Homo sapiens: one gene and its partners. The protein of the gene in region 1 purifies or fractionates together with the protein of each later gene. This does not show direct contact. Each region holds a gene or a part of one and is shown in the gene's direction. Other genes may lie near its edges. The genes, in order: TPM1, SCLT1, GOLGA3, HOMER1, CROCC, KLHL21 and SPAG9.

Region 1 (4,433 bases):
GTACAGTCTTGATTCCCGAGTGAGGCCATCTGCTTTGTTGGCAGAAATGGGTGGTTTTGAGAAGCAGAGTTCCTTTGTGTCCAGAAAACGGTTCTAATTTTAATCCTGCTAGGGGATCCCAGGCTTTATCAGGAAGCCAATCAGTAGCACTGCGAAGAAGGACCAAAACTCCTCTCCCCCAGCCACAAAGACCCGGACAAAAGATCTTTGGCCGGAAGGGAGAGTTGGGCCCTGTGTCTTGTGAAAGGAGGCTCTCATGCTGTCATGGTGCAAGTCATTTCTTCCCAGAGTGACCTGGCACATCCAGATTGGGCAGCTTAGAGACCACAGACAGTTTCTCAGTGGATTCACAGAGGCCTCTCTCCTCAAGGGTGGTAGAAAACTATTATCAACGCAGGTTTTCAGCAGAATTTGCTCCTGGTCGTGTCCCCATGAAAACAGCCTCCTGTGATAAGAGGCAACTTGATTATTAAGGTTTCTGTTTTTTCCTTATTGGATCACATCGTGGCTATCCTGAAACAGCATTGCCCCTCCTTTTTATTACCATTATTACCTTCAGATTACACTATGCTCACAAGTTTTGATCTGCTTCAGAGGCTCCCTTCCTCTCTCTGGTTCTTCCACTAAATACAAATTTGATTTTGTCAGTTATCTCACCAACTTGTCTCACGTTAGTGTCTCTTGTATTCTTCCACTGCAGTAAGGAGGTAGATGCACAGATCAGCCATCAAATTGATGGAGTTCTTAGGTTTACTTTGTTTTCCTGGCAGCCCCCACCTTTTTAGTACATGTCTCATCCTACTGCTGTTTTTGAGATTGTGAATGTGTATTTTATCCCTCCTTCCACATTTTGGTCTGGCTGCCGGTTCACCTAGGTCAGACTTCCAATTGAGACTGCCCAATCACAGCTAACCATTCTGAGTCAAAGCAGAAGCCTCTGATCTCCTCTCTGCTGGCACTCCTAATAGAGAGTTGCTTCTCTCTGGTCTACCAGAAAGAGGATCATATTGTTTGTAGACAAAACCCTTAGGGCCTGATGGGATCTGATCTCTACCCCCATGCCCTTCTGTTACACAAAGCTTGCAAGACCCATGGTGTGTGTGTTGTGTCTTCCTGCTGCAGGTGGCCCGTAAGCTGGTCATCATTGAGAGCGACCTGGAACGTGCAGAGGAGCGGGCTGAGCTCTCAGAAGGGTAAGCGGGCCCGGCGCCAGGAGGCCACGAATGGGGTGCTGCAGAGCAGTGACTAAACAGCATGACCTTCTGGCAGCTGCACATTACCTGTTTCAGCTCCGGGCTCCTTTTGTGCTCATTTGATGTGGATGAGCCACGAGTATGGAACATGGAGGACTCGTGTGGGGTGTCTTATGTATGAATGCGTGTATCACTGCATGCCTTACCTGCACACTGATTTTGTGAATGGCCTTGTGCATTTCCTGTGTCCACTAACAGCCAAGTCCGACAGCTGGAAGAACAATTAAGAATAATGGATCAGACCTTGAAAGCATTAATGGCTGCAGAGGATAAGGTACTGATGGCTCGTGTGGTTTTTAGGTTTAACTGCAACCCAGACATCTTTCAGCTTCCAATGCCTCCTGGTTCGTTTGGTATAACGACTGCACCTTCACTTCACCCTCTGCTATTTATATCTTGCCTTAAGTGCTTTCCCTTGGTCCTTTATGCTCCTTTGTTTTCCCTTCATAAATGCTCTTTGGGCAGCCAAAAAAGGAGCCAAATTATCGCACTTCAAAGTTGTTGGATTTGGTCACCCTGCCTTCTGCTGTTGCGAGGTTGGGGGGCAGTGTTCCTGGAAAACCTAAACATTTTAATACCTGATGATTTGGCTACTTTAAGGCAGCCCTTCGTCTCTAGGACTCAGTTTTCATTTTTTCCCATCCCTCTCCTTTTTCTCTCCTCCTTCCTTTGGCTTGTCTCCCACCCTTTCTGCCTCTGATCGAAAACATTAGCAAATGTGCCGAGCTTGAAGAAGAATTGAAAACTGTGACGAACAACTTGAAGTCACTGGAGGCTCAGGCTGAGAAGGTAGGCCAGGAGGATGGTGTGGGGGAAAGGCATCTTTTAAGAGCTGCTCAAAAGAGGCCCTGCCAGAAAGCAACACTTACAGTAGACATTTTAGTAAAATGGCAATATTGTGAGGTGATTTTTGGAGAGTTACTAGATAACAAATTCTTTTTTTTAACTAGAGAATTTATTTTATGTTAGGGATATGAGGCATCAATTTAATTTAAACCAAGTGCCAAGTGGATAAGTTATCTTGTTGTTATCCCATGTAAAACAATAGGCAAGAAAGCAGAGAATGTATTGCAGTGTGCCATTTGATATCAGAGGTTCCATTACCTCCTAAGAGATCCTTAACATCTGTTGGCTGAGCTGGCGAGTTCTTTGCATGAGAAGCCATGAGTAGATTGAGCTGCAGCCTGACATCTGGAATGCTCTTTCTAATTACAGTACTCGCAGAAGGAAGACAGATATGAGGAAGAGATCAAGGTCCTTTCCGACAAGCTGAAGGAGGTAATATGAGAGTTGTGGATGAAGCCAACTGGATTTTAAATGAGTTTGTTTTCATGGAACCGGTCAGGGCCTTTTCATTTTAAAGTTCCAATGATCCAAGTCAGGAATATTCAAAGGTCGCCTTGGAGTTTATGTACTGTGCTAACTGCCATTTCTCACAGAGGTGACTGAAACTGACAAGTAGTTTCTGATCCATTTTATAGGTGATGTGCTTCATTTTCATCCTCTAGTTTTCCCTATGTTTGTAGCTACAGGAAACATAAAACTTCCCAACTTTAACTCAAATAAATCATTACAGGCTGAGACTCGGGCTGAGTTTGCGGAGAGGTCAGTAACTAAATTGGAGAAAAGCATTGATGACTTAGAAGGTAAGATCTTAAGTAGTGTTTTTAGTTTAATCCTTATGGTTGAATACCAACCTGGCAAAACAATTTTCCAATTCAAGGGCATCCACATTGATACGCTCCTTTGCACTTGCACATTCTTCCTGTGTGTCCTCTGGGGTTTTTCTCTGTGGCTCTTGAACTCATGAACCTAAGTCTTCTGCTCACGAGGTGACTAGTTAGCCACCAGCCATAGTGGCAAATGCCATCCAGCTTGACTTCATGCTCATTACAAGTGTGGCAGGTTTATTTTTCACTGTGAGTGAGGTGCTTATTGGTGAGAATGACTCTAGTATATTTTATATCTTTAGTGTTACTTCCTAATTAAATTGGGAATGATGTGGTGATTGTGGTCTTGTTTTTAGAAGAACCCATCTTCTTCCAAGTATGAATTCAAAGTAAGGATTTAGGGGTTATTTTAAGTCATATATTATCTTAACAAAATACTTTATATCCTGAAGGAGGAGGGAAAAATTATACTTAAGCATTTCTTCCCTAAGGCACTTAGGTTTTATTTTAGTAATAACCACTCTATCTCACAGATATCCTAAATGTTGAGCTTTGAAGCTTGTGAAGGATTAGCTGTGAACAAGAAAGAAAAAAGACAAATATCTACATCACAGAAGGGATTAGAGAAGGAACTAGTGTTTGGTGCAGATAATAACCAAAATAGTGGAGAAGAGAGAATGACAAATGGTTGCAAAATGATCTGCCAAAGTGCAGCAAAGTATGAAACCTGCAGCATTACAAAAACTAAGTTGCAGACTTGCCATATAAAGTGTGGCGCCCATTGCTTTTCAAGCCTCCTGGACCAGTAATAGGCAGCTTGAGTGGGAAGACCACAGGAGTAGCTTAAATGGCACTAAGAAATCGCTATCCCAGTGGTCTAGTGTGGTCAGGAAGTCAGTGGTTTGAAGGTGGAACCAGATAAGGACTACAGGCTGTAGTCACAAATTGTTCTTCCAAAACACTGCCCTTGCATTTTTTTCCCATTGTTTATAGCTGCAGATGCCTGACTACTCCAGTGTAATTAAAATATAGCTCTGCAAAAGAAAGATGTTCCATTAGCCCCTGCCTCCCCTCACCAGGAGACAGCCTTCTGTGGTTTCGTTTACAATTTAACATGGTTTACTGATATACCTACCATATTTGTTAGGATTTTCATATTGAGTCTTTTTCATTTTATTTTCTAATGGGTTTTGTTCTCTTTGTTTTTGTTTCAATTTACTTAAAACAAAACGCACGCCTCCTGCATTGGCCACCTGCTGCGGCACCAACCCCTTCATGCATTGCCCTTTTCTTGCTGCTGTGTTGGGATGGTGCGCGCACCACCCTCACTCACCCTCCATTTCTTGATCACTCTCCATGTTCTTGCACCTCTGCCTTCCACTTCCTGGTCATAGACGAGCTGTACGCTCAGAAACTGAAGTACAAAGCCATCAGCGAGGAGCTGGACCACGCTCTCAACGATATGACTTCCATGTAAACGTTCATCCACTCTGCCTGCTTACACCCTGCC
Region 2 (4,467 bases), on another chromosome or scaffold:
GGCATGTGCCACTGCACCTGGCTAATATTTTTATTTTTTATTTTTTGTAGAAGCCGGGTCTCCCTTTGTCACCCAGGCTGGTCTTGAACTCCTGGCTTTAGGCAATCCTCCCACCTCAGCCTCTTAAAGTGCCTTTTTTTTTTTCCTTCCCAATATTTTTGTCTGGTTTTAGTATCAGGTAATGCCAGCCTCATAGAATTACTTGGAAAATATTTTGTACTCTTCAACTTTCTGTAAGAGTATGTATAAAATGATATTATTTCTTCCTTGAATATTTGATAGAATTCACCAGTGAAGCCAACTGGACCTGAAGTTTTCTTTGTGGAAAGGTTTTAAAATACAAACTTAATTTCTTTAATAAATAAAGAGCTATTCAGTACTCTGTATTGTACTCGAGAAGAACCTCTGCAGGTCTCACATTCCCTAGGGTTCTTTCTCTGTGCAGTCTTCTATCCTTTGTCCTGCCAATTCTAGTTCACTTAATCTCCACTACTTCTCAGCTCCACCTCTTAATAAGAGTCCAGTGGTCTCCACTTGCATTTCCTCCCCCCGTGTCATGGCCCTGGAAAGTCTCTTAAGTCATTAAGGTGGGGCAATCATAGGGCTTACCTCATTTGTTTCTTGTCTCTGATTATCATTGTCTGATGTCTAGTGTACTATAAGGTATTGATGATTTTTTTGCTTGCTTTTTCATGTGTGTCAGGCAGAAAAGTGGTCCATGTTATTTCTTCTTGAGTATAAGCAGAAGTCCTATTCAAGTTGCCCTACTTTTTGATGTCTTAAACTCAAGTATCTTACTCCTACTATAACTGTTCTTTGACCTCCTCATCCTTTGAGCCCTTCATTTTCTTTACCACCTTGACTGCTTCCCAGTTTGTTTTTACTGGTGTCTTTTACAGGCTGTAACCATTGCCCATTAGTCCTTCTGCGCTTGTCAGTAATCTTAATATGATTATACCCCTGCTTTTCTATAGCTGATGCCCAGTAACACCTCATGCCATGATTGGTTGGTTTGCCTTTACAGTTCTCATACCAAATGCTGTTTAGTACCTATAGATAGCTGAACCCTCTGGATAAGTGCCTTCACAAAGTCAAGGTTAACAGAGCTAGTAAGTGACTGAGCTGGGATTTGAACCCAGGCAGTCTAGTTTCAGTGTCTCTTTTCTTAACTGCTACACAAAAAGCATACTTGCAAGAAAGGAAAACTGTAAACCTGTTTCACTTATGCATGTTGGAACTAAAATCCAAAATAAAATATTAGTAAATTGAAACTAACAATGAATGTGTGTGTGTATATATATATATATATATATATACATACATACACCAGCATCTTCAGGTATCCAGGAAACGCAAATTAAACAAGCCAGATAAGTACTTGTAGAATGAAGGAAATAATAACATTTAAGTTACAGTAAAATTTTCTCCAGATTATAGTCAATCTATGAAGATTGAAAGTGTTTCCCTCATTATTAATACATAATTTACTTCTTATCCTATTTTAATTACTGAGGACACAGATCTAGTTTTTTTCTTAATTGAAAACTCTGTCAGGGAAAAAAAAAGAGGTTTGTATTGTGATTAATTTTTTGTTTTAAGTTTTTCTTTTTTTAAAATTTATCTTTTAAGTTCAGGGGTACATGTGCAGGTTTGTTATATAGGTAAACTTGTGTCATGGGCATTTGTTGTGCAGATTATTTTGTCACCCAGGTATTAAGCCTAATACCCATTAGTTGCTTGTCCTGATCCTCTCCCTCCTCCCACCCTTCACCCTCCAATAGGCCACCGTGTGTGTTGGTCCCCTCCATGTGTTCTCATCATTTACCTCCCACTTATAATTGAGAACATGCCGTACTTGGTTTTCTGTTCCTGCATTAGTTTGCTAAGGATAATGGTCTCCAGCTCCATCCATGTTCCTGCAAAGGAGATGATCTCGTTCTTCTTTATGGCTGCATAGTATTCCATGGTATACATGTACCACATTTTCTTTAGCCAGACCACCATTGATAGGCATTAAGGTTGATTTCATGTCTTTACTCTTGTGGATAGTGTTGCAATGGACATACATGCTCATGTGTCTTTGTGGTAGAATGATTTATATTCCTTTGGGTGTATACTCAGTAATGGGATTAAAGGGTCGAATGGTATTTCTGTCTTTAGGTGTTTGAGGAATCGCCACACTGTCTTCCACAATGGTTGAACTAATTTACATTCCCACCAAAATGTATAAATGTTCCTTTTTCTCCACAACTTCACCAGCATCTGTTATTTTTTGACTTTTTAATAATAGCCATTCTAACTGGTGTGAGGTAGTATCTCACTGTGGTTTTGATTTACATTTCTCTAATGATCAGTGATGTTGAGCTTTTTTTTGTATGCTTGCTGACCGCATATATGTCTTCTTTTAAAAGGTGTCTGTTCATGAGCTTTGCCCACTTTTTAATGGGATTTTTTTCTTGTAAATTTGTTCAAGTTCCTTATAGATGCTGACTATTAGACCTTTGTCAGATACACAGTTTGCAGAAATTTTCTCCCACTTTGCAGCATGTCTGTTCACTCTGTGGATAGTTTCCTTTGCTGTGCCAAAGCTCCTTATTTTAATTAGTTTCCATTTGTAATTTTTGCTTTTGTTGCAATTGCTTTTGGCATTTTTGTCATGAAACCTTTGCCTACTCCTGTGTCCAGATGGTGTTGCTTAGGTTGTCTTCCGGGGTTTTTATAGTTTGGGGTTTTACATTTAAGTCTTTAATTCGTCTTGAGTTATTATTTATATATTGTGTAAGCAAGGAGTCCAGTTTCAGTCTTTTTTCATATGGCTTGCCGGTTATCCGAGCACCATTTAAAGTAGGGAATTCTTTCCTCATTGCTTGTTTTTGTCAGGTTTGTTGAAGATCAGATAGTTGTAGGTATGTGGCCTTAATTCTGGGTTCACTATTATGTTCCATTGGCCTATGTGTCTGTTTTTTGCACCAGTACCATGCTGTTTTGGTTACTGTGGCCCTGTAGTGTAGTTCTAAGTTAGGAAACATGATGCCTCCAGGTGTGTTCTTTTTGCTTAGGATTGCTTTGGCTATTCAGTCTCTTTTTTGGTTTCATATGAATTTTAAAGTTTTTTCCAGAGAAACGTTTCATAGTTTTCTGTGTAGAGGTCTTAAACATCTTCTGTTGTATTTATTACTGGGCATTTATTTTTTTTTATGGTACTATAAATAGCATCTTTTACTGTTTTCTAACTTTATGCTGCCAGTATCTAGAAATATAATTAATTTTTATATATTGACCTTGTATCCAACAACTTTGTTAATCTTCATGATTGATTTTTAAGTATGTATCTGTGGTTTTTTTGGATTAATCACATATGCACTCATAACTATGAATAATGACAGTTGTTTCATCTTTTCCAGCCTTTGTGTCTTTTAGGTCTTTTACTTGCTTTACTGCATTAACTTAGACCTCCAATAGAGTGTTGAGTAAATGTCATAAGAATTTATCCTTATGTGATTCCTAATTCAAGGGAAAGTTTTCAACATTTTTACTCATGAGTATGATGTTTGTTGTGTATTTTACGTAAGCATTCATTATAATAACAGTGTTCCCTTCTAGTCTTACTTTGATAAGGCTTTATCATGAATATATCTTGAATTTCATCAGGTGCTTTTTTAAAATAACTTTTGAGATGATCATATTTCTTATCATTTTTTGTGAGTTTATTTTCAATTTCTTTATTTTCTGGGCTTATCTTTATTTACTCCACTTGGCTTTCTTTGGATTTAATTTGGTGCTGTTTTTCTAACTTCTTGGAATGCATTTGTAACTTCAGACTTTTTCTCTAGTATATGCAATTAAAGCTACAGATTTCTCTTTAAGCAAGTTTGGAGGTATCACATTTTCACTATTGTTCACTTCAAAATACTTTAAAATTTATTTTGTAATTCCTCCTGAGATCTTTCTTCTTTTTTTTTTCTGAGATAGAGTCTTGCTCTGTTGCCCAGGCTGGAGCGTAGTGCAATCATAGCTCACTGTAGCCTCAAAGTAGCCTCAAACTCCTAGGCTCCAGTGATTCTCCTACTTTGGCCTCCCAAAGCAGTGAGATTATAGGCATGAGCTACCATGCCTGGCCAAAAGTGATTTCTGAACTTCCAAACATATAGAGGATTTTCCTTTTTTTTTTTTTTTTTTGGTTCTTGATACTAACTTAATAGTGCTATTGTAAGATAACATACTGTCTTTGGTTTCAGTCCTTTGAACATTATTGAGACTTTCTTTTACCAGTGAATAATCAACATTAAATGTTCTGTGTGATCTTGAAAAGAACGTGTGATTGCAAATTTGTTGGGTACTATGTTGTATGTATGTTACTTTTCTTGATGTAAATAAAAGTATGGTCTTGTTATTTCTTTTTTTTCTTTTTCTTTTCTTCTTATTCTTTTTTTTTTTTTTTTTCAGAGTCTCACTCTGTCACCCAGG
Region 3 (4,467 bases), on another chromosome or scaffold:
CCCAGGGGTTCTGGGGAGGGGTCCCGGGGTCTCAGGAAGGGTCCTGGGGGCTCTGGGGGAGGGGTCTGGGGACTGTGGGGAGGGGATCCAGGGGCTTGTGGGGAGGGTTCCCGGGGGCTCTTGGGGAGGGGTCCTGGGGTTTCCTAGGAGGGGTCTGGATCCTTGAGGAGGGGTCCTAGGCCTTGGGGAGGGTTCCTGGGGCCCTGGGGAGGGGTCCTGGGTCCTGAGGGTTTGGAGGAGAGGTCCTGGGTCCACAGGCTTTCCTATGAACCAGTCATGTCCTGTTGTGCCTCTGATGCTCTGGACAGTGTTTGGAAACGCTTGTTGGTCTCAGTAATGAGTGGTTTGTGGCCGGGTGCAGTGGCTCACACCTGTAATCCCAGCACTTTGGGAGGCCGAGGCAGGTGGATCACGAGGTCAGGAGTTCAAGACTAGCCTGACCAATATGGTGAAACCCTGTCTCTACTAAAAATACAAAAATTAGCTGGGCATGGTGGCGGGCACCTGTAGTCCCAGCCACTCGGGAGGCTGAGGCAGGAGAATCACTTGAACCTGGGAGGCGGAGGTTGCAGTGAGCTGAGATCACGCCCCTGCACTCCAGCCTGGGTGACAGAGTGAGACTCCATCTCAATAAAAAAAAAAAAGAGTGGTTTGTAAGAAGGCAGACGTCTCTCTCAGGATTTTTCTCAAGGCCCAAGTCCTCCAGGGCGAGCCTGAGCAGTGCCTTTGGTGGGGGTGATGGGCTGGAGCCAGGAAGGGGAGACAGGCTGGGGGTGGCAGTGCCGCTCCTCACGCCCTCCTTCCCTTCCACAGTCGTTGCAGTTCGATAAGGAGCAGATGGTCGCGGTCACAGAGGCCAATGAGGCGCTGAAGAAACAAATCGAAGAGTTGCAGCAAGAGGCCCGGAAGTAAGTCTGCATGTGCCCGGGGGAGGTGCGGGGGCCAGGTGGGAGGTGCGGGGGCCGGGGGGGAGGCGAACCAGAATGCCAGACGGTCACATCGGGATAATTCAGCTTCCTCCTGTGTCTCCCTCATGACACCCCAGGGCCATCACGGAACAGAAGCAGAAGATGAGGCGGCTGGGCTCAGACTTGACCAGCGCCCAGAAGGAGATGAAGACCAAACATAAGGCCTACGAGAACGCCGTGGGCATCCTCAGCCGCCGCCTGCAGGAGGCCCTCGCGGCCAAGGAGGCTGCGGACGCGGAGCTGGGCCAGCTCCGAGCCCAGGGTGGCAGCAGTGACAGCAGCCTGGCTCTACATGTAGGTAACACCGTGCCATCCCCGGCCAGGGTCACCAGCCCCTCAGTGCAGGGAAGGGCTCTCCATCAGCAGTTGTCCCCTAAAGCCTAGCGGGGCCGAGCTCGCGTGGGAGGTGGCAACTCTCTAAACTCCCGCTCATCTTCCAGGTTACCAGGAACCCACAGTGACTGAGCATTGCCTCGCGTCTCCCTCATGAACCCCACATGGCCTGTGGCCTGTGGCGTTCACCTGATTTTCCTCAAGAAATCTCCTTGGCTCAGAGAAGTTCAGCTGCTCCCTTGGGGCAGAGGGAGGGCCTGCCCTGGTCCGCTCGCGTTCCAGCTGCCTCTGCGCCTCCTCGCATCTCAGGAGGAAAAGCAGCCTCCGCACTCACTGAGAAGCAGGAGTGAGGGCATGGGGTCAGCGATTGACAGGGTTCAGGGAGCGTTTAGAGGTAGCCATGCTGCGGTGGCCCAGAACAAGCGGGTGCCCTTTCTGGAGGGCTCTGAGCAGAGCCTTCCGTGGAGGCCGTGGCCCTCCGTGCTCTGTCACCTTTCGTGGTAGGCATAACATTCTACCTGAGTGAGTTCATCCGCATTTTATTTATTATTCTCCAATTCACGTCCTTGCACTGACAACTTAGTATTTCTTCTTATATGTGGTTTGTTTCTATCTCCTGTCCACTTAAGAATTTATGGGTAGGAAGAGACTGTATCATAACGTGGGGTTTTCTTGTCAAATAAACTCGGCCGGGCACGGTGGCTCACACCTATAATCCCAGCGCTTTGGGAGGCTGAGGCAGGAGGATCGCTTGAGCACAGGAGTTTGAGACCAGCCTGGGCAACATAATTAGACCCTGTATTTACAAATAATACAAAAATAAAACCCAGGCATGGTAGCACGTGCCTGTGGACACAGATGCTTGAGACACTGAGGTGGGAGGATCGCCTCAGCCTGGGAGGTGAGGCTGAAACTGCAGTGAGTCATGATTTTGCTGCTGCACTCCAGCCCGGGCGATAGAGACTCTGTGTCTGAAATTCAATAAATAAATCAAGTGCTTCCTCTCACCTGGTTGCTTTGTAAAATGTTGGGGAGATTGATTCAGTTGCCATTTTCTTTGGGCTCACTAAGGGCTGGGGTGGGGAGGTCGCAAAGGCCGGGCAGAGCTGGCCCCTCGCCACGCTGTTGCAGCTGAGGAATAGCACAGCTGCGAGCCGATGTCTTGTGTCCGTCCGGGCTTCACCCCTCGCAAGTGGTGACTTTTGGCAAATTTCTCACCTTTTTGATCCTCAGCAAAATGAGGCCAAATTGAGGTGAATGAGAACCTTCTCATGTAAGGGTTAAGTTAGGTGGTACTGGAACATGCTTGGCAAGGGCCTGGTACCATCGAGGCAGCAAGTGGGCGGGGTGTGAGAGCACACCTGTGCCTGCATGTATCCGTGCATGTGTGAGGTGTGAGCATGTGTGTGTGCAGCGTGTGGAGTGTTTGTGTGCATGGTGTGTGGGATGTGAGCATATGTGTGCATGCAGTGTGGGGTGTATGTGTGCATGCAGTGTGAGGTGTGAGCACATGTGCATGTGTGGTGTGGGGTGTGAACACGTGGGGTGTGAGCATGTGCGTGTGGGGTGTGAGCACGTGTGTGTGTGGTGTGTGGGATGTGAACATGTGCACGTGGTGTGTGTTACATGAGTGTGTGTATGTGATGTGTGGTGCGTGAGCATGTGTGTGGTATTTATTACAACTGGTGCTGCTTGCTTGCCACAGATGGTGATTTATAGCCATTATCTGCAGGTCAGATTTTCTTCTGTATTTTTGAAGCATTGAACTGAAGAGATGATTTTGTTTGTCCCAACTATCCCCGTGTGTCATCGTGTGCATGCTGTGGTCGGTTAATTCAACTTCTTTAACAAAAAGGAAGGTTGTGAGACTGTGTCAGACAGCTGGTGTCTGGTGTGTGCAGCCACACAGCCTCATGCCTGCCGGCACCACAGGAAGTGAGGGGGGTCAGGGCCTGTCCCATGACCAAGCGCCCGTTCCATCTTGGCCCTTAGGAAAGGATCCAGGCCCTGGAGGCGGAGCTGCAGGCTGTCAGTCATAGCAAGACGCTGCTGGAAAAGGAACTGCAGGAGGTCATAGCGCTGACCAGCCAGGAGCTGGAGGAGTCCCGGGAGAAGGTGCTGGAGCTGGAGGACGAGGTGAGGCCTGGCCATCTGCTGTGGCGGCAGCGTGGGGCAGGTCACGTGAGCCCTGGACATGCCGCCACGCGTGAGACCCGAAGAACAAAACTTCACCGTGTGCCCAGCGTTGCTACTTTTGGTGTTGCCACCTTCTGACCGTCGGCCTCTGGCTCTGTGGTGGGGCAGGCCCTGATTCCAGCCCTCTGGGGAGGATCACTGTACAGCCTCTTTGGTGGAATGGTTACAGAATTCATAGTGGAACCCTTCTCAGTTCAAATGCTTTGGTTGCAAATAAGAAACCCAACTTCGCCAGGCGAGTGGCTCATGCCTGTAATCCCAGCACTTTGGGAGGCTGAGGTGGGCGGATCATGAGGTTAGGAGCTCGAGACCAGCCTGGCCGACATGGTGAAACCCCATCTCTACTAAAAATACAAAAATTAGCCGGGTGTGGTGGCGGGTGCCTGTAGTCCCAGTTACTTGGGTGGCTGAGGCAGGTAAACCGCTTGAACCCAGGAGCGGAGGTTGCAGTGAGCCAAGATCGCGCCACTGCACTCCAGGCTGGGCGACAGAGTGAGACTCCGTCTCAAAAAAAGAAAAACGTCAGATATCTCAGGTTCAGAGACAGTTCTCGCTTCAGCGCTGCTGGTGGCAGCTCAGTGTCCCGGCGCCCCCCACTCCCCAGCCCCTCCCTGTGGAGCTCCGTCACAGTAGGGCCGCCTGTTCCACTCTCTGGCTGTGTCCTGCCCTGAAGTGGTTTTGCTCATGCCCACCCTGCTGAGTGGCCTAGCCAGGGCTCAGTGCCTGGACAGACTTCTCCAGAAGCCCATGGCCCCAGGAGAAGGCTGGGCTCTTGGCCATGGGGAGGAATGAGAGGGGCCTGGGGAAGCAACTGACCATGACCACGACAGCCTTCAGATCATGAAGCAAGCACGGTCCTGTGGTGTCCATCGCAGGGTTGTGTGGTGTCCATTGTTCTTTGTTTTTGTTGTCTTGAGACAGAGTCTCACTCTGTCATTCAGGCTGGAGTGCACAATCTTGGCTCACCACA
Region 4 (3,967 bases), on another chromosome or scaffold:
TATTTCACTCTGGTGACTACTCTGGTACACTCTGGTGTTCTCTAATCTTGTCTGTTGTATAGTTTACTTTTCCATATTGATTCCATGTATTTATGAGAAGATATTGTCTCCCATTTTATTACACATTTTAAAGCCAACTAACGAAGGCAGCTGAGTCCCTCAGAAATTTTTCTTTTTAAGTTTCTAATAAATTTGACACACAGTACTGAAATACAGCAGCCCGTCATTGACAGGCTGGTCTAGCAATGTTAAGTATATTTACAGAATATGCAGTTACATTTATTTATATATTTTGCAAGAAATCTTTTCTGAATGATCAATGCATTTCAATTTACGAATAATAATGGTTATTGGGGAACTGTTTATTATAGATAATTTTAAGGTGTATAGCTATTTTAAAGGGGGTCCATTTACATCAAACAGCTGATCAGAGGACTCTATCTAAATTGTGATCGTGGCAGATAGAGATGGAGTCATGTACTCTATCTGGCTCTACACATCAATCACATCTTGATTCAAACCTCACAAGGCAATATTCTGAATTGTTAACTAGGTATTTCAAAACAGGAATTAAATTCAATAGGCTCTTCTCAGTGAACAGGTTTTAATGTTGTTTTGATGTAATTTTAAAAGACTTTTAGCAAACATGCATTTCTTTATATGATATATTTCTTTTACGAAGCTATTTTAAAAGTAAGCCAAGTGCTGTCTAGTCTGCTTATAAAGTAGGAATTGCATCAGAGTACATATATTCTTGCTGTACAATGCCTGTGATGTTGAGGAGGGTTCTTTTTTAAAGTGTATGCTTGAGTAACTGACTCTATGGAGTCTATAAATGCACTGACTTCTTGTTTGTACCCCAAAATGATCGAATTGTTAAGTACAAAATTAAGCTAATTAACCAATTTGTAACCATTTTTTCACTCATAAACAGCTACTCAATACTAGACAATTTTGTTTTTTATGTATGTGTATGTACGTAAATACATACATATTAATTTACATTAGAGTGAAAAATAAATGGTTTGTTTCTGAAGTTAGTTTCTTAAGTGAGTTTTCAGGTGTCTCTGAAAAATTTATAACAATCATGTATTATATGTGCTGTAACATCATGTACGTTACCTCCATCTATTTTAGGATATTTTCCTCACCTATATATTATAGGGAGAATAATTTAGATACACATGCTCAGAGCTGAGATATTTCTCTGATAAATCAGGTAACAAAATGTATTTGATTGATGGAATTTTGAAGTAAATGTGTTTTTATCCATCAGTTTCTGAGTAACAAAGAGCACCAAGTTTTAATTTAAATAGGAGATTTAACACTAGGGATCAGGGAGTTTAGTATGAAGAGTTAAAAAAATTTAAAAAACAGTGTAAGCTGTTGAAATGGCAAGTGAATTATTTTAATGATGTAATAAAATATTTTTAAATTTTGACATAGTGATCATTTAATGAAAAAACTCACCAAAATGTCTCCATTTGAATTGTATTGATAATGTGGGACATATGTGTGATTCAATATATACATATACCCATATGTATATACAGAAAATTATTTTTAATACTTTCCTACTGATAATGAAATTTAAAATTGGAAATTTTGTGAGTGTTTTTCTTGTCCAATAGAGCCTAATTGTTTCCTTTTTTAGTGATTTAACAATCTCTTGAGGGCTGCACCTTTAAATTCCCAGATTGTCAATAGACATGTACAGTATATGGGATAAGGTGGACACAAGTGCACATATAAATAAAATCTTCTTAAGACTTTTAACTATTCATTTACAGTAGGAGAGTATGTAGAAATCATCATCCACAAGTCATAATTAGGTTGTGTGCCTACTGTAGTTTTTTCCATTTCTGTATTATATAAACATTTGCATATTAAAATTTGATTTTTCCCAGAGACAAGTATTATATACTGTATCTATATTTAAATCAAACTGTGGTAATATATTTCTCAGAAAATAATGTTGGGGACTATAGCCTGAACATGTGGACTTGAAGCGACATGGAGGAGGAGGTTGATCCCATTGTGTATAAGTTAATATGTGATAACTATTGAATCTTGTACAAAAACAAAAATTGAAAAAAAAAAAGAAAAGCAAAAATACAGTTTTTATTTTGAAATACATTTGTTCTCTGGAGAATGTACTTTATCTTTTTTTCCTCCAGTCTTTTACAGATATTTAAAAGCATTTAAATGATGACAGCATTTACTTAAATCTTTCAGGTGCTACTGGATTTTGCATTAGTGTGTTATGTTGTGAAATCCTAACTTTGACATAAAAGGTTTTATAAGTATTCCCCTGCCTGGAAAATTAGTTTTTGTTCTCCTCTCTCTCTCTTTCTCTTTTCCACTTTCTTTCTGCAGACTAAAACATGCTCACGAAGTTGCATCTCTCCTTGTCTCTATAGAAGATCTCCAGCACCATCATAGATTTGATGTTCTGCTGTCATTGAACTGTTGGGAAGCAGTTAGAGGAAAAGCTCACTTTTTTTTTCAGGTGGAAATAAAAGGAACACTCAAAATTAAGCCAACACCACCACTACCTTTAAAAACTAGTTTATTTGCCCTGTTAAAATTAAATGTATTCTTTAACATGTGGGCTACAGTCTCCCATGTTTTTATTTAACTGAAGCATATACACTTCGGTCATTTATCTCCTTGTGGTCCTGATTTTGTCAGTACTGGAATGGGAGGCAGGTCGGGGAAAGTTTGTTTGATGGCAGTGGATTCTTATTGTTGTTTTAACCATTGCATTTATTTGATATCAAATGATTTTGACATCCTGAAATTCTGTGCTTGAAGTCATGAAATGATTTTCATTGAATTTTTGCCTCCTAAATGTATAGCATGAAGTAAATTAATTTATACAAAATCTTAAGAAACCTTTCAGGTAAGAAGTAGTTGAGATTGACACTGTTAGAAAATTTCTCAATTTCTAAATTTAGAAATTACTAGAAAAGGAAAGGATGTGTCATTCACCTTACTCCAAATTGCGAAAGTGTGTTTTTTCCTAATATTCGTGTTAAATTTTACCTTAAAATTTTTATGATAGTTTTTCTTCATGAGAAACTGATATATAGATGTCACGCAAATACAAGCAAAGTTACTGAATTAAAGTAGTGGGTACTTAGCATTTTTTGTTTATATATTACATAGTAAAATAGCTAAAAATCATATCCCAGAAAACTCAAAAACTCAGTCAGCACTACACTGCCTGGTGGTTTCTGCTTAGTACACTAAATAGAAAAAAAAAAAAATTTTAAGTGATTTTTACCAAAAACTTGAACTAGGGAGAAATTGCATCAGGACTAGAATAGACAGAAGGCCACAAACTCCTAGTCGACTTCTTGTCAAGTCTCTGATCTCTGTAAGGACCTCTCTTTTAGGTTAAAGGACACACTGCTTCTCGGCCTTTTGGCTAAGATCAGGTGTAGGTTAAAGGACATATTCCAGAAGCCACCCAGATTATATCTGGGTGGGAAGAGGATATTTTTTGTGAAAGCAGATGCAGAAAAAAGAGCAGGAACATGCTGCCTTCAGTTTTTATCTAAGGCATATCAGGATAGCCAGAGACACAGACCAACTATTTCCTACCTTGCTGCTGCTTTTAACCAAACAGATCGAGATGGCACTGAGTTTCAGAGACTTTCAGAAAACCCTGTCACTTGTCTTGTCAGGATTTGTAACCCAATATAAGACACCTGACATTCAGAACTCACCATTTTGTGGGATTCTGACCTACTTTTTTTTTTTTTTTTTTTTTGAGATGGAGTCTCACTCACTCTATTGCCCAGGTTGGAATGCAGTGGTGCAGTCTTGGCTCACTGCAACCTCTGCCTCCCAGGTTCAAGCAATTCTGCCTCAGCCTCCTGAGTAGCTGGGACTACAGGCACCTGCCACCACGCCTGGCCAATTTTTGTATTTTAATTAGAGTCGGGGTTTCACCATGTTGCGT
Region 5 (4,234 bases), on another chromosome or scaffold:
AGATAAGTATGCTCAGGCCCAGAGGGATTCGGGGCCTGCCTGGCTTCTGTTGCAGGTGCTGCGGCAGCGGCAGGAGGGTGAGGCTGCAGCCCTGAACACCGTCCAGAAGCTGCAAGACGAGCGGCGGCTGCTGCAGGAGCGCCTGGGAAGCCTGCAGCGCGCCCTGGCTCAGCTGGAAGCTGAGAAGCGGGAGGTGGAGCGCTCAGCCCTGCGGCTGGAGAAGGACCGTGTAGCCCTCAGGAGGACGCTGGACAAGGTAGGCTGCTCCCCAGGCTCTCCCCTCACTTCCTCTGGGGCCTAACCGTGGTGGATCCCACTGCACATCCCCAGGGTCTGCTACCTCTGGTGGGGTTAGGTTATTCCATCAGGGTTCAGGAACCTGAGCCCCCTCAGTAAGCTCCTCCTGGCACCCTGATCTCCTGTGGCTCTCCTGCCTAGGTGGAGCGGGAGAAGCTTCGTAGCCATGAGGACACAGTGCGGCTGAGCGCAGAGAAGGGCCGCCTGGACCGCACCCTCACGGGGGCTGAGCTGGAGCTGGCAGAGGCGCAGAGGCAGATCCAGCAGCTGGAGGTCTGACCCCACCCAGTCCGGGACCCCAACTTCATCCCTAGTATGAGTGCTCAGCAATTCCAGTGGAGCTGATGGCCCAGCCAGCCCAGGGCCCATAACCCCCTCCCCCAGGAGCCCTGAGCCTTCCAGTGACCCAGCGGGCCATGGAGGGATGGGTTCTCCCTAAGGTGTACAGAAAAGACACGAAAGGCCTGTTTGCACGTGAGCCTGTGGGTTCATGTACGTTGTGGCCATGCAGCAGTGTGAGAATCCATGTGACGATTCTTGTGTATGGAGCATGAATCTTGTGCATGGTGTGGCGTGTCTAGGTATTATGAATATGTGTTTGTGTACAGATGTTTTCATGCATGGGGGAGTTGGGCCTTTGCACATACACATGCACCTGTGTGAGTCCAGATAGGTATTTACATGCTTGCCTTTGTGCCTGTGTGTATGATGTCTGAGTGTGTGTGTGTGTGTGTGTGTGTGTGTGTGTGTGTGTGTGTCCATGCACCTGCCTGAGTGGGGGTCATTGGGTGCACTCATCCTGGGCTCGCAGGCTCACTGTCAGGGCCAGCAGGATGGAAGACACACAAGGATCTCTCCTGCCTTCCCCCTCTGCACTGGCCGTGTCCCAGGGAGGTACCTGACAACCCGTCACACATGCACACACACACTCACACTGGGCCAGAACGCGGACCACAGCCCCTCCCTGCAGGCGCAGGTGGTGGTGCTGGAGCAGAGCCACAGCCCGGCCCAGCTGGAGGTGGATGCGCAGCAGCAGCAGCTGGAGCTGCAGCAGGAGGTGGAGCGGCTGCGCAGCGCCCAGGCGCAGACTGAGCGCACCCTGGAGGCTCGGGAGCGGGCCCACCGCCAGAGGGTGCGTGGGCTGGAGGAGCAGGTGTGCAGGCCCCCTTAGAAGGCTGGGCCAGGATGGATGTGTGGGGCTGCAGAAAGAGGAGAGACCCAATCAAGACCTTGTGGGTATAGGCAGTCGATGGCTCCCGTAACCGAAAAGGGTGGGGTTGGCTCTGCGCTGGTGTCAGCCAAGACCAGACCGGGGCCACGGGATGCTCCTGGGCCCCAGGCCTCCTGCCATGGCTCTGTTCCCCCTGGCTCCATGCTCAGGGTAGCCTTCTCCCTGGGTGGCCAGGTGGCCTCAGCAGCTCCAGCCTCAGGTTCTCCCAGCAATCTGTCATCTCAGAAGAGAGCAGGGGCAGAAGTCCTAAGGCTGTCCCTCACTGGCCCGCTCAGATCACATACCCCTTCCTGACCATGCCTGAGCCAGCCTTGTCGGCCGGGCAAGGCTTCTCTGCTAGGCCGGGCTGGGTCACATGTCCACCCCTTGGGTCTGGGCTGAAGCCACGCCCACCCAAGTGATGATGGGGATAAAGAATGGGGGTGGAGTTGCCCTCAAAGGTGCCCAACAGTCAGAAGACGCCTGACTCTGCTATAAGGAACAAAATGAGAAAGGCAGGACAGCCCCTGGCTCTCAGTGAGACCAGACCTTTCCTGAAACTGTGGCACTGTGTCCCTCCGGGTTCCCTGCTGCCTCCCTTTCTCTGAAGCCAGGCTGAGGACCTGGCTGGCCTTACCTTCCCTTTCTTCCCCAGGTGTCCACACTGAAGGGCCAGCTGCAGCAGGAGCTTCGAAGGAGCTCAGCACCCTTCTCCCCACCCTCCGGCCCCCCAGAGAAATGAGCTCCTGCTGGCATCTGGAGAACACCCCTGTGCCTGGGACAGGGGAGGACCCTTCTTTTGGACAGCCCCCCCACCCAGAGCCCGGTCCCTTGGGGGCCTCAAGCTGGGGTGGGATGAGGAGGCGCTCTGCTGGCAGTGCTGAGGACGGGTACTCCAGCTCCAGGCCTGGAGAGGCTTCCCAGCAACACCTGCAGTCCAGCCCCCCTCTTCTAGGATGAGCCACTGTAGATCATTAAAGTTCCTCCTTGAGAGGCTGAGCCGTAGCCAGGATTGGGGAGAGCCCTTGTCTCTGGTCAGCCCTGGAGCATGGGATCGTGGGAAAGAGGAGGGGGACCAGGCCCAGGGCAGGGGTCAGAGGCCCAGGCCCTGACTTCGGCTTCCCAGAGATCTCTCCGCCTTAGTTAAGAGCATGTGTCGGGAAATTCCTCAGAGTGCTCAGAGTCCCTGTATTTTTATACCTTTTTACAATGTTAACTGTTCAGAACTGTTTTTTGTAACAAAACCTTGTTTTTAAAAAAGTTTGTACAGCTGTGTCCCTTTTCTAGACAATTGGAGGAGACGTCGGGGGGAGACAGGTAGGGTCTGGGGCAAGAGGGATGGGGCCCTCTAGGGAGGGGTGCTTGGGGAGGCGGCAGGGAGAGCAGAGAGGCCGGTATTGGGAAGGGAACTTACCAGCCTCACAGAATGTCAGATGGGGAGGCCTCTGGGGTACTCGGTCACCCGGCCCATGGAACAGATGGGGCTGTTGAGGCCTGGGACTGGGCCCAGCCTGTGCACCTCGACTCCTTCCAGCCTATGCTTTCTTGCCCCTTTCTCTGGCCCCTCCTTAGATCCAAGCCCACCCTCGGGACAGTGACAGGCCTTCCAGGCAGCATGGCAAACAAGTGCAGGTTTGGATGTGAACGTGGGGTCTTGCCCTGGCACCGCTGAGTGATCCTGAGCAAAGCTGCTTAACCTCTTAGAGCCTCAGTTTGCTCATCTGTAAAATGGGAACCTAACCGCATAGGGTGGCTCTGGGGAAGTTCACATAGGAGGTGCTCAATCAGTGTCCGAAGGAGAAATTAACACTCATCCTCACCTGCTGGAGTCCAGCTGACCGATTCAGCCACAGCACTGCCACTGATAGCTGTGGACCCGTGGGTGGGACCCTTGGGTGGGTTACTTAACGTCTCTGGGCTCAGTTTTCCTGTCTCTAAGAAGGGGATATGAATTGCATCCACCACATATGCCTGTTCGGACGGCTAAACAGGAGTGTGTGAGCCTTCACACACAGAGCCCAGGCCCCACATGCTGGTTGGAGGGAGGTGTTACAATGGCTTGCTTGTTTTTGCCCTTTTTTTTTTGAGACACAGTCTTGCTCTGTCGCCCAGGCTGGAGTGCAGTGGCGCGATCTCGGCTCACTGCAACCTCCGCCTCCCAGATTGAAGCAATTCTTGTGCCTCGGCCTCCTGAGTAGCTGGAATTACAGGCACACGCCACCACGCCTGGCTAATTTTTTTTTGTATTTTTACTAGAGACGGGATTTCGCCATGGCCAGGCTGGTCTCGAACTCCTGGCCTCAAGTGATCCGCCCGCCTCAGCCTCCCTAAGTGCTGGAATTATAGGTGTGAGTCCCTGTGCCCCGCTTTTTTTGCCCTCTTAATGGCACCCATCTCCCCAACTTCCCAAACAAAGGCCTTGGATGTCAGTCCGCCTGCCTTGACCCTGTGCCCCCCCCACCCCATGGGCGGCCTCCCATTTTTGCTGTGTTCCTCTGGTGATGGGAACTCAATGTGCTCACCAAGCAGCCCCGGTCATCAGAAAGCTGTGTCCCTGAAGCCTTCCATCTCCCGTGCAATTCCCACAACACGCATGCGCGCGTACACTGTCATGACGCAGCGTTCTGGGCAGGGCAGAGCTGGAGCCGGCGGGTAAGGCGGTGGGGCTGGGACTGCGGAAGCACAGGGCACCTGAGCAGATCGTTCACTCCAAGGGGTCAGGAGCCT
Region 6 (4,467 bases), on another chromosome or scaffold:
GCTTGGAGGGTGCCCAGGAAGCCTAGGAGTTAGTGAGCAAGTCCCTGTGTGCCCTGCTGACAAGCTCTGTGGCTCCCCAGGAGAACTGTCCCAAGGCCCAGGGCTCTGGTCTGCTGAGGTGTATGTATGGCTGGGGGGCGGTGTCCAGAGGAGGCTGCTGGATTCTTCCAGCATTGCACTCAGGACCTTTGTTTGGTAGAGGCTTGGCAGCAGTCATCTCGCTGGACAGTGGTCAGCGTGTGCTTTGCCTTAGCCACAACATGTGGCCTGGGCTTTTGGGGAGAGGGTGTGCGTCTGGGGTGAAGCCCAGTGATGTTAATTCCTCCCAAGGCAGAGGCCCTTGCGGAAGTTCGGGAGGGTGCAGGTGGGTGACTCACCTGAGTGGGCTGATCTTCTGCCTGTCATGCGTCCTGGCAGGTGGGTCCGATGGCTCCCGGCTCTATGACTGCGTGTGGAGGTACAACTCAAGCGTGAATGAGTGGGCGGAGGTGGCGCCCATGCTGAAGGCCCGCGAGTACCACAGCTCCTCTGTGCTGGACGGACTGCTGTACGTGGTGGCCGCCGACAGCACCGAGCGCTATGACCACACCACTGACTCCTGGGAGGCCCTGCAGCCCATGACCTACCCCATGGACAACTGCTCCACCACTGCGTGCCGTGGCCGGCTCTATGCCATCGGCTCCCTGGCTGGCAAGGAGACCATGGTGATGCAGTGCTACGACCCGGACACCGACCTGTGGTCGCTGGTGGACTGCGGCCAGCTCCCGCCCTGGTCCTTCGCCCCCAAGACTGCGACTCTAAACGGACTCATGTACTTTGTCAGGTGAGTTCCAGGTGCCGAGCCCCACTGTGTGTTTGGTGTCTCTTACCAGGCCCTGTCTTAAGCACACATCATGGCTGTTCTCCCTTTTCCACAGATGAGAAACTGAGGCCTAGCTGGGGTTGGAGGCTGGGTCTGTCTCTTTGTTTTTGTTTTGTTTTGTTTTTGAGACGGAGTCTCGCTCTGTCGCCCAGGCTGGAGTGCTGTGGCGCAATCTCAGCTCACTGCAAGCTCCACCTTCCGGGTTCACGCCATTCTCCTGCCTCAGCCTCCAGAGTAGCTGGGACTACAGGCGCCCACCACCATGCCTGGCTAATTTTTTTGTATTTTTTGTAGAGACGGGGTTTCACCGTGTTAGCCAGGATGGTCTTGATCTCCTGACCTCATGATCGGTCCGCCTTGGCCTCCCAAAGTGCTGGGATTACGGGCGTGAGCCACTGCACCCGGTCTGTTTTTTTTTGTTTTGTTTTGTTTTTTTAAAAGAAGAGTTTCGCTTTTGTTGCCCAAGCTGGAGTACAGTGGCGCGATCTTGGCTCACTGCAACCTCTGCCTCCCAAGTTCAAGCCATTCTCCTGCCTCAGCCTGCCAAGTAGCTGGGATTACAGGCATGTGCCACCATGCCTGGCTGATTTTTATATTTTTAGTAGAGACAGGGTTTCTCCATGTTGGTCAGGCTGGTCTAGAACTCCTGACCTCATGTGATCCAGCTGCCTCAGCCTCCCAAAGTGCTGGGATTATAGGCACAAGCCACCACACCTGGCTCATTTTTTAACTTTTTGTAGAGACAGGGTCTCGCTGTATTGCCCCGGCTGGTCTCAAATTCCTAGCTTCAAACAATCGTCTCACATTTCCTGCCTCCCAGAGTGCTGGGATTGTAGGTGTGAGCCCCCACACCCAGCCAGGCCTGGTCTTTCGGAGCCCACAGTGCTTGTTCCATTCCTTTGGGTTTAAGGAAAACCCCAGGCTTTCTTAAGCGATTTCACAGGTGGTGGAGTTGAGCTCTTCCAGCAAGAGTAGGCTGTAGGCTGAGCAGCACGGAGCAGAGACAGGCAGCCTGCGGGTCATCATATGTCTGCTGGCCTTGATGACCTGTCTGGTCACAGCCAAATGCTGCCTCCGGCTGGTTTCTGGGCATCAATGATGGCACGGGGCAGCCCCTCCCTGCTGTACTCCGCTGCTTGTTCACATAATCCTGCTGCTCCCTCCCAGCCTAGAGCCTGCCTGAAGCTCTGGGTCCAGGAGGGAAGGGGAAGAACTGAATGACAGTCCCCACTGTGCCCTTTCGTGCTGGGGCTTTGAATGGGGAGCTTGGGGGATGTGAGCTCCCTGCTCCTTGGCCCCCTGCCTCGCACTGCCAGAGCTGCCCTGGCCTTGGCATCTGCCCCACCATCCCCCCAGACAGGAGGCTCCTTACCAGGCTTTTGGAGTGAGCACCAAGAAGAACAGGGGTGGCGTTGCTTGTCACGCAAGTAGCTGGGCACCACCACATGCCCAGAACCAATGGTCTTGCTCTGAGAAAGCCCTGGAATCTCAGCCAGCTCTGGTCCCATTATAAAACATCATCTGACCCTTTGCCCGGCTCTCCCTCCCCCAAGTTGTGAAGGTGTCTTCAAAGAGGGGGTGGAGATGGCTATAAATACAACTTATCAGAGGGCCAGAACCTTCCTTTCGGCCCCTAGGCAGTGGTTCCAGGCCCAGTGTCTTTGAGAGTCCTCCTCCCCTCCCCCATCTGTCCTAGAGCAAGATGTGAAGATGTGCGCCAGGGAGGTCTGCCTGCTGGGTTAACCTTCCCATAGGGAAGCATGAGGGTCTGCCCCGCCACCCCCACCCACTGCTGACCTTTCCAGGGGTTTCCTAAGCCACTTGCACGTGTGGGAGGAGGCAGTGCTCTGGAAAGGCTGCATGCGTTCATCTTACCAGTGTGACCTGTGCCGGAGCACAGAGGAGGGGCGCCCAGGCTCAGCCTGAGTGGAAGCTGCTTGAGCCCTAAAGAGAAGGCTAAGCATGCAGGGGCCCTGCTTGGGGCTGGTCCCCCTGGGCTATTTGTCCCGGTGTCACTTTGTCTGCGCACTTTGGCTCTTCAAGAGCCACATAACCCTCTGCCCAGAACACCACCTGTCTTTGGGCAGCTTGTGCCTAGGACGTGCCATTCTCAGGGAGGCCACAGCCTCAGCCGTTGTCCATGTGACCCACAAATGACCTGGGCCTCCCTCCCCTTGGTTCTGGTACAAAATGCCTCCTTGGCTGGGGTGCAGTAGCCCCCTCTGGGAATGCCGGCGAGCTCTGTCCAGCCTCTGGGCTGTGGTTTGCAAGTCTCTGCTGGGGAAAGACAGGGCAGCCTAGCAGGTTCCAGGGTGTAATCATCATCATCATCACCACCACCACAGGGCCCACAAACTGAGGGTGACTTTGACATTTTGAAATGATTGGGGGCAAAAAATCAGGAATAACATTTCAAGTTAGACGAGATGTAAATGTCTGTCCATGGATAGTTTTCTTGGCACACAGCCAGGCTCGTGTCTATGCATTGTCTGTGGCTGGTTTTGTGCTGCCGTGTCAGGTTCACAACTACTGTTGTTTGTCTTGTAGTATCTTTGTTTCTTTTTTTTGTTTTTGAGACGAAGTCTCACTCACTATGCCTCCCAGGCTGGAGTGCAATAGCACGCTCTTGGCTCACTGTAATCTCCGCCTCCCGGGTTCAAGAGATTCTCCTGCCTCAGCCACCCGGGTTCAAGCGATTTTCCTACCTCAGCCTCCTGAGCAGCTGGTATTACAGGCACATGCCACCACACCTGGCTAATTTTTGTATTTTCACTAGAGACGGGGTTTCATCGTGTTGGCCAGACTGGTCTCGAACTCCTGACCTCAGGCACTCCACCAGCCTCGGCCTCCCAAAGTGCTGCATTACAGGCGTGAGCCACAGTGCCTGGCCTGCATCTTTGCTTTTCAAGGCTGTGCCTTTGAGCCTTTTACTGTGGGGATATAAAGGGTGTCAGATGAAGTTGAAGGGTCTTGACCCCAAAGTGAGGGGTACTTCAACATAGTAGTGAACAGGACAGGGTTGGGGGCTCATAGTGATATTGGGGACAGTGGCAAGGAGTGTTCCAGGGCCTGTGGGGATGCACAGTGGAGCAAGGAGGCTTCTTTAAGATCTCAAGGGAGCTACTGTAGGCTTGGGGGGTGGGGGACAGCCACCTTGGTACTGGGTGATGGGGAGGCACTGAATGGGCTTCAAGTACTCAAAAGCCTGATCTTCAGGTTTGGGAGTGAGAGTTCTGGCCCTGGAGCCCTGGCTGAGTGGGCACAGGGGGCTGAAATTGGCTCCTAAGAGCTGGGGATGGAGCCTACCTGGCAAGGGTGCTGCTGGATGGCATCAGAAAGATCCAGGTCACTGGAGGAGTCAGTGACCCAGGGGAGGACTCTGCTCCAGCCCTGCATGTGTGCACTTCCTCCTCGCTCTGAGCAGTTGTCCTCCTGCTGCCCCCTCCACAGGGATGACTCCGCTGAGGTGGACGTGTACAACCCGACGAGGAACGAATGGGACAAGATCCCGTCCATGAATCAGGTAAATTTTCAGGCGGGCCAGCATTGGAAGCACAGGCTGGTCCTGATTTTGCAACCCAAGTGTCATCGTGATGAGTGTTTGG
Region 7 (4,467 bases), on another chromosome or scaffold:
TTTCACCATGTTGGCCAGGGTGGTGTAAAACTCCTGACCTCAAGTGATTCATCTGCCTCAACCTCCCAAAGTGCTGGGATTACAGGCGTGAGCCACCACACTTGGCCCACACTTGATATTTTATTTTTTAATTTTATTTATTTTTGAGACTGAGTTTCACGCTCTGTTGCCCAGGCTGGGGTGCAGAGGCACGATCTTGGCTTACTGCAACCTCTGCCTTCTGGATTCAAGCAGTTCTTCTGTCTCAGCCTTCTGAGTAGCTGGGATTATAGGCATGAGCCACCATGCCCAGCTACTTTTTGTATTTTTAGTAGAGATGGGGTTTCACCATGTTAGCCAGGCTGGTCTTGAACTCCTGACCTTGTTATCTGCCTACCTTGGCCTGCCAAAGTGTTGGGATTACAGGCATGAGCCACCATGCCTGGCCCATTTTTTAAAAAATTTATTTTTGAGACAGAGTCTTGTGCTGTCGCCCAGGCTGGAGTGCAGTGGTGCGATCTCAGATCACTGTAACTCCCACCTTCCAGGTTCAAGCAATTCTCCTGCCTCAGCCTCCCTAGTAGTTTGGGATTACAGGCACGCGCCAGCACGCCCGGCTAATTTTTGTAGTTTTAATAGAGAAGGGGTTTCACCATGTTGTCCAGGCTGGTCTCAAACTCTTGACCTCAGGTGATCCCCCTGCCTCGGCCTCCCAAAGTGCTGGGATTACAAGCGTGAGCCACCGCACCTGGCCTAAAAAACACATATTTTAATATTTTTATAGATCTTTTGATTGATTGATTGAGACGAGATCTCACTCTGTTGCCCAGGCCAGAGTGCAGTGGTGTAATCCCGGCTGACTGCAACCTCTGCCTCCTGGGTTCAAGCGATCCTCCCATCTCAACTTCCGGAATAGCTGGGACTACAGGATCATGCCGCCATGCCTGGCTAATTTTTGTATTTTTTGTAGAAATGGGTTTCCCATGTTGCCCAGGCTGATCTTGAATATTTGGGCTCAGACATTCCTCGCACCTCAGCCTCCCAAAGTGCTGTGATTACAGGTGTGAGCCACTGCACCCAACCTATTTTCTTTTGTTGTTGTTGTTTTTTTTTTTTTTGAGATGGGGTCTTGCTTTGCCACCCATGCTGGAGTGCAGTAGCGCGATCTTGGCTCACTGCAACCTCTGCCTCCCGGGTTCAAGCAGTTCTCCTGCCTCATCCTCCTGAGTAGCTGGGACTACAGGTGCTCACAACCACACCTCGCTAACTTTTGTATTTTTAATAGAGATGGGGTTTTACCATGTTGTCCAGGCTGGTATTGAACTCCTAACCTCAGGTGATCCACCTGCCTTGGCCTCCCAAAGTGCTGGGATTACAGGTGTGAGACACTGTGCCCGGCCAACCTATTTGCTTTTTCTTTTCTTTCTTTTTTTTTTTTTTTTTTGATATGGCATTTCACACTTGTTGCCCAGGCTGGAGCGCAATGGTGCGATCTCAGCTCACTGCAACCTCCGCCTCCCAGATACAAAGGATTCTCCTGCCTCAGCCTCCTGAGTAGCTGGGATTACAGGCATGTGCCACCATGGCCAGCTAATTTTGTATTTGTAGTAAAGATGGGGTTTCTCCATGTTGGTCAGGCTGGTCTCGAACTCCCAACCTCAGGTGATCCGCCGGCCTCGGCCTCCCAAAGTGCTGGGATTATGGGTGTGAGCCACCACGCCCGGCAGCGGCCAACATTTTTTCATATTTTTAAAAATACCATTTTTTTTTTCTGAACTGTTTGTTTTTGTGATTTTTTTTTCCTTTGGTTGGGTTTTTTTTTTTTTCTTTTTTTTAGAGATGAGGTTCAGGCTGGAGTGCAGTTGTGCAATCATGGCCCACAGCAGCCTTGACCTCCAGGGCTCAAGTAGATCCCACTTCCTCAGCCTCTGAGCAGCTGTGACTACAGGCATGCGCCACCATGCCTGGCTAATTTTTAATTTTTTTTGTAGAAACAGGGTCTCGTTATGTTATGCAAGCTGAACTCACTATGTTGCCCAGTCTGGTCTGGAACTCCTGGGCTCAAGTGGATCCTCCTGCCTTGTGGATCCTGCCAAAGTTTTTTTTTTTTTTTTTTTTTTTTTTTTGTTGAGACAGAGTCTGGCTCTGTCGCCAGTCTGGAGTGCAGTGGAGTGTCTTGGCTTGCTGCAACCTCCACCACCTGGGTTCAAGCGATTCTCTTGCTTCAGCCTCCTGAGTAGCTGGGACTACAGGCGCGCGCCATCACACCCAGCTAATTTTTGTATTTTTAGTGGAGATGGGGTTTCACCATGTTGGCCAGGATGGTCTTGATCTCGACCTCAAGTCATCTGCCTGCCCCAGCCTCCCAAAGTGCTAGGATTACAGGTGTGAGCCACTGCGCCTGGCCTTTTTTTTTTTTTTTTTTTTGTAGAGATGGGGTCACACTGTGTTGCCCAGGCTTGTCTTGAACTCCTGGCCTCAAGACATTTTCTTACCTCAGCCTCCCAAAGTGTTGGGATTGTAGGTGTGAGCCACCACACCTGGCCATGGTTAACGATTCGAATAATGTTCACACTGCCCCTAGCCAGAGTAGATAGAGATATGCCCCTGCACCTAGTCATTCAGACACTTTCTGAAATGAACAATCTATGTTTGTTTTCTGGCGGGAGTGGGATGGGAAGGGGTATGGTTGTTGCTTTATGAAATAATAATTTGTTAGTTAATTATTACTTAAGCTCCTAAGACATTTTTTTTTAAAGACAAAGACTAGCTCTGGATTAAGACATCTTTTTTTAAATTTGAGATTTCTGAATGTGAATATCTAAATGAGATACCATTATGTGTCCCTGCTGTAGTGACACTCATATTTTTATTTAGTTAAAAATCACAAAAGAACGCTACGCATGGTGGCTCATGCCTGTAATTTCAGCACTTTGGGAGGCCGAGGTGGTGGATTGCCTGAGGTCAGGAGTTCAAGACCAGCCCTGACCAACATGGTGAAACCCCGTCTCTACTAAAAATACAAAAATTAACTGGGCATGGTGGCGGACGCCTGTAATCCAAGCTACTCCGGAGGCAGAGGAAGGAAAATCACTTGTACCTGGGAGGCGGAGGTTGTAGTGAGCCAATATCTTGCCATTGAACTCCAGCCTGAGCTACAGAGTGAGACTGTGTCTTCAAAAGAAAAAACAAAACAAAAAAAAATCACAAAAGAGGACACCAAACTGGGTATAGTACCAAACTGGTTCAGAGGGTAGATTAGTAGATTGACTATTCACTGGATTGCTGAAGTGTGTGCCATAGGTCACACATCCAGTTCTGTGCTTGAGAGAGTACAGGATTCCTGCTTCTTGAAATCTTTACCTTACCTTTAACTACATGCTGCTTACTTATGTTGTACTGAACTTTGCTTCTCAGGAGAACTGATGTTAGAACCTACCCAAGTTATTTTGCTCTGCTCTGCACTCAATGAATACAGCTGTTATCTAAATAAGTTATTAGGTTGTGGTCAGAAATATCTGCATAGACCAGTTTAATAATGTATGTAATGTTATATATATTTAAAAAGCTGTTATTTGGAAATGGGTATATATAAGTTCTGTTTTTTACTTTGAAATCTTGACCAGTGATATTTGATTATTGCTTTGAACATAGCACTGTGTTTTCTTTTCTTTTTTTTTTTGAGACGGAGTCTTGCTCTGTCACCCTGGCTGGAGTGCAGTGGCGGGATCTCGGCTCACTGCAACCTCCGCCTCCTGGATTCAAGCGATTCTCCTGCCTCAGCCTCCCGTGTAGCTGGGACTACAGGCGCCCGCCACCACACCCGGCTAATTTTTTGTATTTTTAGTAGAGATGGGGTTTCACTGCGTTAGCCAGGATGGTCTCAATCTGACCTCGTGATCTGCCCGCCTCGGCCTCCCAAAGTGGTGGGATTACAGGCATGAGCCACCCACCCGGCCATACTGTGTTTTATTTTCTTAAGAATTACAGCATTCAGTAGTTTGGCATAATAGGCACACCCAAAAATGTGTGAGGTGAACCATGGGAATTTATATATTAATGTAATAGAGAAGTACCAAGTTGAGGGTATAGAATTTTATTTTATGTTATTTTTTTCGAGACAAGGTCTGGCCCAGGTTGGAGTGCAGTGGTGCGATCTTGGCTCACTGCAACTGTTGCCTCTTGGGCTCAAGCCATCCTTCCGTCTCAGCCTCCCAAGTAGATGGGACTACAGGTGTACACCACCACGCCCAGCTAATTTTTGATATTTTGTAAAGACGGGTTTCACCATGTTGCCCAGGCTGGTCTCGAATTTGTGAGCTCAAGTGATCTGCCTGCCTCGGCCTCCCAAAGTGCTGGGATTACAAGCGTGAGCCACCACGTCCAGCTAGGGTTTTTTTTTTTTTTTTGTAAGGTTAGTAAACTTTTTCAGTAAATCCACCACCACCCCTCCCAGCTTTTTATTAGGTAAACTTTCAAACATATAGA

Evidence for each region.
Region 2: the proteins of TPM1 (region 1) and SCLT1 purify together in Homo sapiens (affinity purification with mass spectrometry; 3 studies listed by BioGRID and IntAct, with this or other methods). This does not show direct contact.
Region 3: the proteins of TPM1 (region 1) and GOLGA3 purify together in Homo sapiens (affinity purification with mass spectrometry, with the first as the bait; one large-scale study listed by BioGRID). This does not show direct contact.
Region 4: the proteins of TPM1 (region 1) and HOMER1 purify together in Homo sapiens (affinity purification with mass spectrometry; 3 studies listed by BioGRID and IntAct, with this or other methods). This does not show direct contact.
Region 5: the proteins of TPM1 (region 1) and CROCC purify together in Homo sapiens (affinity purification with mass spectrometry; 3 studies listed by BioGRID and IntAct, with this or other methods). This does not show direct contact.
Region 6: the proteins of TPM1 (region 1) and KLHL21 purify together in Homo sapiens (affinity purification with mass spectrometry; 3 studies listed by BioGRID and IntAct, with this or other methods). This does not show direct contact.
Region 7: the proteins of TPM1 (region 1) and SPAG9 purify together in Homo sapiens (affinity purification with mass spectrometry; 2 studies listed by BioGRID and IntAct, with this or other methods). This does not show direct contact.

What each region holds. Positions count from the first base shown.
Region 1 is NC_000015.10:63,059,747-63,064,179, forward strand, and holds part of TPM1 (tropomyosin alpha-1 chain), read left to right. Parts: intron 1-1,122; coding exon 1,123-1,193; intron 1,194-1,451; coding exon of another isoform or gene 1,452-1,527; intron 1,528-1,966; coding exon 1,967-2,042; intron 2,043-2,468; coding exon 2,469-2,531; intron 2,532-2,829; coding exon 2,830-2,899; coding exon of another isoform or gene 2,900-3,063; exon of another isoform or gene 3,064-4,317; coding exon 4,318-4,396; coding exon of another isoform or gene 4,397-4,400; exon of another isoform or gene 4,401-4,433. UniProt on the Homo sapiens protein: Binds to actin filaments in muscle and non-muscle cells. Plays a central role, in association with the troponin complex, in the calcium dependent regulation of vertebrate striated muscle contraction.
Region 2 is NC_000004.12:129,083,163-129,087,629, reverse strand, and holds part of SCLT1 (sodium channel and clathrin linker 1), read left to right. Parts: intron 1-4,467. UniProt on the Homo sapiens protein: Adapter protein that links SCN10A to clathrin. Regulates SCN10A channel activity, possibly by promoting channel internalization.
Region 3 is NC_000012.12:132,783,134-132,787,600, reverse strand, and holds part of GOLGA3 (golgin subfamily A member 3), read left to right. Parts: intron 1-813; coding exon 814-908; intron 909-1,045; coding exon 1,046-1,262; intron 1,263-3,293; coding exon 3,294-3,437; coding exon of another isoform or gene 3,438-3,575; exon of another isoform or gene 3,576-3,733; intron 3,734-4,467. UniProt on the Homo sapiens protein: Golgi auto-antigen; probably involved in maintaining Golgi structure.
Region 4 is NC_000005.10:79,371,437-79,375,403, reverse strand, and holds the end of HOMER1 (homer protein homolog 1), read left to right. Parts: 3' UTR 1-2,768; downstream 2,769-3,967. UniProt on the Homo sapiens protein: Postsynaptic density scaffolding protein. Binds and cross-links cytoplasmic regions of GRM1, GRM5, ITPR1, DNM3, RYR1, RYR2, SHANK1 and SHANK3.
Region 5 is NC_000001.11:16,970,198-16,974,431, forward strand, and holds the end of CROCC (rootletin), read left to right. Parts: intron 1-55; coding exon 56-256; intron 257-438; coding exon 439-570; intron 571-1,267; coding exon 1,268-1,450; intron 1,451-2,162; coding exon 2,163-2,249; 3' UTR 2,250-2,767; downstream 2,768-4,234. UniProt on the Homo sapiens protein: Major structural component of the ciliary rootlet, a cytoskeletal-like structure in ciliated cells which originates from the basal body at the proximal end of a cilium and extends proximally toward the cell nucleus.
Region 6 is NC_000001.11:6,595,403-6,599,869, reverse strand, and holds part of KLHL21 (kelch-like protein 21), read left to right. Parts: intron 1-417; coding exon 418-823; intron 824-4,312; coding exon 4,313-4,385; intron 4,386-4,467. UniProt on the Homo sapiens protein: Substrate-specific adapter of a BCR (BTB-CUL3-RBX1) E3 ubiquitin-protein ligase complex required for efficient chromosome alignment and cytokinesis.
Region 7 is NC_000017.11:51,110,310-51,114,776, reverse strand, and holds part of SPAG9 (C-Jun-amino-terminal kinase-interacting protein 4), read left to right. Parts: intron 1-4,467. UniProt on the Homo sapiens protein: The JNK-interacting protein (JIP) group of scaffold proteins selectively mediates JNK signaling by aggregating specific components of the MAPK cascade to form a functional JNK signaling module.